Linked DNA regions of Homo sapiens. The protein of the gene in region 1 interacts with the protein of each later gene in a biochemical or structural test. Each region holds a gene or a part of one and is shown on either strand. Other genes may lie near its edges.

The links.
Region 2: the proteins of ITGAM (region 1) and ICAM1 form a complex in vitro, tested with the Homo sapiens proteins (one study listed by BioGRID).

What each region holds. Positions count from the first base shown.
Region 1 is NC_000016.10:31,273,394-31,277,048, reverse strand, and holds part of ITGAM (integrin alpha-M isoform 2 precursor), read right to left. Parts: coding exon 3,531-3,655; intron 1,501-3,530; coding exon 1,350-1,500; intron 379-1,349; coding exon 305-378; intron 130-304; coding exon 1-129.
Region 2 is NC_000019.10:10,281,058-10,284,210, reverse strand, and holds part of ICAM1 (intercellular adhesion molecule 1 precursor), read right to left. Parts: intron 891-3,153; exon of another isoform or gene 761-890; intron 731-760; coding exon 425-730; intron 179-424; coding exon 1-178. UniProt on the Homo sapiens protein: ICAM proteins are ligands for the leukocyte adhesion protein LFA-1 (integrin alpha-L/beta-2).

The DNA of each region.
Region 1 (3,655 bases):
CAAGTAAGCATCATTCATGTCTGAATCCACTCTGGTCATGTTGATGAAGGTGCTTTTCTCCTTTGATGTATATAGAAAGACTCCACCAGCCCAGTCATAGCTCCCCACAGTGCTCAGCAAGGGGCCATTCTGGGAAAGGTGTAGAACAGGGTTGATGAGGAAGGAAGAAGGGACAACCGCTGCCCCTCACAGAGCTACTTCCCAAGTATCTATCACAGAGAAGAGTCCCCAAACCCCCACATCTCTCCTATCTCTTCTTGCTACCCCCTGCCCCACCCCCGCAATTTAATGAAGGGCCACTTACAGAGGTGATGGCAGCGCTGAAGCCTTCCTGAGACATCTCATGCTCAAAGGAGCTGCTACTTCCTGTCTGAGTACCTGTAAAGAGGAGAAGTTTCTATATTAAAGAAAGCAGAAGGCCGGGCATGGTGGCTCACGCCTGTAATCCCAACATTTTGAGAGCCTGAGATGGGCAGATCACTTGAGGTCAGGAGTTAGAGACCAGTCTGGTGAACATGGTGAAACCCCGTCTCTACTAAAAATACAAAAATTAGCTGGGCGTGGTGGTATGCGCCTGTAATCCCAGCTACTCAGGAGGCTGAGGCAGGAGAATCACTTGAACCTGGGAGGCAGAGGTTGCAGTGAGCCAAGATCGCACCACTGCACTCCAGCCTGGGCAATAGAGCAAGACTCAGTCTCAAAAAAAAATAGAAAGAAAAGAAAAGAAAGCAGAAGAACCTAGAACAGGTACTGAAAACCCAAGTGCTCTGGTGGCCACAGACAAAGGAGACTCCGACAGGATCTGTGTCAAGCTGGACAGCATACGTCCCTCTTAGAAGGATGGCAGCCATTCACCTCCAGCAACATCCTGCCAAGTGGGAATGCGGTCTTCAAGGTGTCTAATCTTCCAGCTTTTCAAGATAAGCCATAAACCCAGACTGTTTATGAAATCCCCCAATTTCTAAATTCCTTTTATTCAACAAACATTTATTGAGCACCTTCTGAGTACCAGGCACTATTCTAGGCAATTGGGATACAACAGAGAACCGAACAGACGACAGCTGGCAACACATCCAAATTTTTGTTAAAATACTGGGTGGGATTTGACTCCCCCATACTCCAATTTACCAGCCTATAGCCAAGATTTGCAAAATTACAGATAAAAGTATGGATTCTTTGACTTCAAAGGAATTGACCAAGTGAGGCTGGGACTGGGAGCTGTAGGAAGTGGAGAGAGTTGATGCTGGGGGATACCAAGGGTTAGGAAGGTCTGGATTCTAGAGGGGACTATGTTCTGGGGTGGGGGGCTGCCTCTGGAGCTGCTCTGGGAACACAGATGCCTGACTCACCCTCGATCGCAAAGATCTTCTCCCGAAGCTGGTTCTGAATGGTCTTCAGAGCCTCAAAGTTATTCACCTGGAACACGTGATCACGAGGCGGCTTGGATGCGATGGTATTAAGCTCTTGGCGGGATTTCTCACTGCGGAAGGCATCTCCCACCTGTTACCAAGGAACAGAGGCTAAATCATGGTGTGAGGCTAGCAATATCATCTGGCAAAGACAATTCTGCAGGAAACTAGTCTGAACCATTATTTATCAAGTGAGGAAATGCATCAGAAGGTCCCTGGGACAGGGTTGCCAGGTATAGTTGGGCAGGTTGTACACTGCACAAGGCACTGTGCCAAGGAAGCAAGTTGGGGCAGAAACCCGGCTGCTGATCCATCTGCTGTGCCACGTCTCCTGGTATGGAGCTGACCTCCCCCTAGAGGAAGGGGAGCCTTTTTCTTTATATGAAGGTATGTCCTACGTGCCAAGGCATGTATCCATGGTGATATCGCTTTCTGTGTCATGCAGGTGCTGTAGTAGTTTGATTACACTGATGATCCTGACTCCTTGCCTCTTCCTGTATCCAAGCCCTTTCCCCCAGCACTCTGCTGTGCCCTCCTGCTCTTGGTGGAGTCATCTGCCCCCTTCATTGCCTCTGGGCTCAGACATGAGTCTTGCTTTAGCCCATTGTATACAGAGCACCCTTGACATAACTGACTCCATCTTAGAAAAAGGCTCCATTCTATATTTCACAGGGCACTTTGCCAACAAGGATAAGGTCGTTTTAAACAAATTTTTTAAATAGGCCAGGTGCAGTGGCTCATGCCTATAATCCCACACTTTGGAAGGCCAAGGCGGGCAGATCACTTGAGATCAGGAGTTCAAGACCAACCTGGCCAACATGGTGAAACCCCATCTCTACTAACAATACAAAACAAAAATTAGCCAGGCATGGTGGTGCATGCCTGTAGTCCCAGCTACTCAGGAGGCTGAGGCACAAGAACTGCTTGAACCCAGGAGGTGGAGGTTGCAGTGAGCCAAGATCATGCCACTGCACTCCAGCCTGAGCGATAGAGCAAGACTCAGTCTCAAAATAAATAAATAAATAAATATAAATAAATAAAATAAACAAATAAAGACTACATCCAACCAGATAAGGATGCAAACAAGCACATTCTTCTCTGTCTGTTCTCACCAGACAGCTCTGTGACTAGAAGAGATCAGGCCTTCAGCAGCTCAAAGCAGCTGTTGGAACTCACACCTCGCAGTCGCTCATGATGAGAGCCTGGCATTTGCTGCCGAGGGCTCTGCCGTATCAAAGACTCTGCCTTGCAAGACTAACAGGACCAGGACCCTTGGGCCCAGACCAGGAGTCCTTTTCATTCATCCTTTCTCCTCTTTCTTTTTCTTCTGATGTTAAATGTTACTTTGTTTGCTGTGGAATGTTTAACCTATAACTTATATATTGATTAAGTATACTATTATATATGGTTTGCAATATTGACTGACTTGTGGGTGGCTTGAGCCAGAGTGTCTGAGGGAACAGGATGCACTAAGAAGAACTGCCTCCTTGGGAATTCCATGCAGCTTGTGGCGTTTGTGATTGAAATAGCATCAGCGAAAGATGTTGTGGAAAAACACAAACCTGCATGGACCTGGTTATCGCTAACCTTGCACTGCTCGTGACACCCATGGATGTTATCAAACATGATGCAGAGGCGTAAAAAAGCACTTGCAACATCTCCACTGTTCTCTTGCTCCCCTGCCTTCACCATGAGGACATGCCCAGGCTAGCCCTGGAGAATGAGAGCCAGGTTGCCAAAGGGCCAAGTCACCCCAGTGGTTCCACCCAAGGCCATCTGGTCCAGCAGATGACATAGCTGGCAACCCTCAGAAACAGAGAGAGCCTGGCCAAGATCAGCAGAGCAGCCTGCCAACCTGTAGCTAATGACAGTGAGGAAGGCCATTGAGACCAGAACTCTTGGCAGGCTGACCCACAGGCTTACTTATTATTTTAAGCTGCTGAATTTTGGGATAGTTTATTACACAGCATTGATGTGGCAACAGATAGCTGATACGGTGTATATGAGCTAGCATTAGCTCTCATGTCACTTTGATTTTAATAATATTTGCAAATTGAAGGGAGGATGGATCCACATAGAAACCCTCCACAGAAGCATCAACCTGAGAGCTGCATTCCCTACCCCAATGACGTAGCGAATGACTCCCTCTCTGTCTGCCTCAGGGATGACATCCTCATATCCCAAGGGATCGCCAAACTTTTCTCCATCCGTGATGACAACTAGGATCTTAAAGGCATTCTTTCGGG
Region 2 (3,153 bases), on another chromosome or scaffold:
GCCGAGAAGGAGTCGTTGCCATAGGTGACTGTGGGGTTCAACCTCTGGTCCCCCAGTGCCAGGTGGACCTGGGCCTCCGAGACTGGGAACAGCCCGTCCAGGGAACAGACCACGGTCCCCTGCGTGTCCACCTCTAGGACCCGGGGGCTGACAAGTTGTGGGGGAGTCGCTGGCAGGACTAGGGAGAGAAGAAAGGTGTGAGCAGACAGGGATGGACGTCCCGAAGCCCTTCTCTGGGGCATTTCATTCCCCCTCCTGCGAGATCCTCTTCCAGGGCCACTCAGCAGCCTAGGTCACATACGCCTAGAACACATGCACCCCTTAGCCGGGGCCACACCCATCTCAAAAGATCCTGTGGCCACAGGCACCGCATTGCAGGATACCCCACCCCCACCTTCTCCCTGCTGGCTTCTTCAATCCTCACCAAAGGTCTGGAGCTGGTAGGGGGCCGAGGTGTTCTCAAACAGCTCCAGCCCTTGGGGCCGCAGGTCCAGTTCAGTGCGGCACGAGAAATTGGCTCCATGGTGATCTCTCCTCACCAGCACCGTGGTCGTGACCTCAGCGGGCTCCCCCACAGCTGGCTCCCGTTTCAGCTCCTTCTCCCCACGGAGCAGCACCACGGTGAGGTTGGCCCGGGGTGCCCCACCCTCCACCTGGCAGCGTAGGGTAAGGTTCTTGCCCACTGGCTGCCAAGAGGGGAGGGGTGCCAGTTCCACCCGTTCTGGAGTCCCTGCAGGAAAACAGAGGTGGGGGTGTCTGGTGAAGTGGACCTTGCTGCCTGCCTAACAGACGAACTGCACCTGCCTGGGAGCCCTACCTCTTCAGTATCTCCCCCAAACACGCCCAGACACCTAAGCAGATAGGAATGTCAAGATCTTCAGTGAAAACTGGTAAGAGGGCCCCGAGTGTTTGTGAAGGGGATCAAAATATTCCTTATTCATGACAGCAGCATCTTAGAGTGAAAAGTGGAAAAGAACTTCAAAGTCTATTGCTAGGTGTCTGGTCAAATAAATTCAGCAGCCCAGTGCACTAGACTGGGCAAACAGTGGCTCGATCTTGGCTCACTGCAACCTCTGCCTCTGGGATTCAGGGGATTCTCCTGCCTCAGCCTCCTGAGTAGCTTAGATTACAGGCACACACCACCACACCAGGTTAATTTTTGTATTTTTATTTTTAATTAATTAATTAATTAAGTTTTTAGACTGAGTCTCCTTCTGTCGCCCAGGCTGGAGGGTGATGGCATGATCTTGGCTCACTGCAACCTCTGCCTCCTGGGTTCAAGCAATTCTCCTGCCTCAACCTCCTGAGTAGCTGGGATTACAGGCACGTGTCACCACACCCAGCTAATTTTTGTATTTTTAGTAGAAACGGGGTTTCAGCATGTTGCCCAGGCTGGTCTCGAATTCCTGACCTCAAGTGATCTGCCCACCCCGGCCTCCCAAAGTGCTGGGATTACAGGTGAAAGTAAATGAGCCTGGCCTAGACATTCTTTAAAAAACAAAACAAAACAAAAAAAAAAACCTGTTGGCCAGGTGTGATGGCTCAGGCTGTAATCCTAGCACTTTGTGAGGCCAAGGCAAGAGGGTCACTTGAGGCCAGGAGTTCAAGACAAGCCTGGGCAACATAGGGAGACCCCCATCTCTAAGAAAAATTAAAAAAAGGTTGGCAGGGCGCGGTGGCTCACGCCTTTAATCCCAGCACTTTGGGAGGCCAAGGAGGGTGGATCCACGAAGTCAGGAGTTCGAGATAAGCCTGACCAACAGAGTGAAACCCCGTCTCTATTAAAAATACAAAAATTAGTCTGGCATGGTGGTGCACGCCTGTAGTCTCAGCTACTCGGGAGGCTGAGGCAGGAGAATCTCTTGAACCTGGGAGGTGGAGGTTGCAGTGAGCTGAGATCGTGCCACTGCACTCCAGCCTAGGTGACAGAGCGAGACTCCATCTCAAAATAAATGAATGAATGAATGAATGAATGGTTAACTGGGTGTGGTGGTGCACACCTGTAGTCCCTGCTACTTGGGAGGCTGAGGCAGGAGGATCACTTGAGCCCAGGAGTTTAAGGCTATAGTGAACTGTGATCATGCCACTGTACTTTAGCCTGGGAAAGAAAGACCCTGTTTCTATTAAAAAAAAAAAAAAGTCAGTAATGACAGAGTCTAATAACAAAAAGGCTGCGTGTGGTGGCTCACGCCTGTAATCCCAACACTTTGGGGGGCCGAGGCAGGCGGATCACCTGAGGTCAGGAGTTCAAGACCAGCCTGGCCAATATAGTGAAACCCCGTCTCTACCTAAAAATACAAAAATTAGCCAGGCGTGGTGTTGTGTGCCTGTAGTCCCAGCTACTTGAGAGGCTGAGGTTTACTTGTGAGGAAAGGATTACTTCAGCCCAGGAGGCAGAGATTGCAGTGAACTGAGATCGCGCCACTGTACTCTAGACTGAGTGACAGAGTGAGAGTCTCTCTCAGAGGAAAAAAAAAAAAAAAAAAAAAGCATCAGGACCGGGGGGGTCCTGCATTTGATACCCAGCCTTGCTTCTTTGCTGTGGGTAAGTGACTTTGTCTCTCTGAACCTCAGTTTCCTGAACTGTAAAATAGGGCTATTAAAGGTAGGAGAATTCACTTAAGAGGTAGACAGAGTCGCTGTACATAAGCAGGAGGTTTCTTTTTTAGAGTGATTGAAATATTTTAAAATTAGATTGTAGTCATGGTTGTTTGTACAGAAGTCATTGAATTATGTGCTTAAAAGGGATGAATCTTATGGTATTCTAAATCGTATCTCAAGAAAGCAAGGCTGGGGCATGGTGGCTCACATCTGTAATCCCAGTACTTTGGGATGCCAAGGCGGGGTCATTTGAGGCCAGGAGTTCAAGGCTAGCTTGGGCAACATTGCAAGACCTCATTTCTCCAAAAAAAAAAAAAAAAATTAAAAACAAGCTGGGCTTCGGCATGGCGTGGTGGCTTATGCCTGTAATCCCAGCACTTTGGGAGGCCAGAACAGATGGATCACCGGAAGTCAGGAGTTCAAGACCAGCCTGGCCAGGCCAGACATGGTGGCTCACGCCTGTAATCCCAGCACTTTGGGAGGCCAAGGCGGGCGGATCACGAGGTCAGGAGATCAAGACCATCCTGGCTAACACGGTGAAACCCCGTCTCT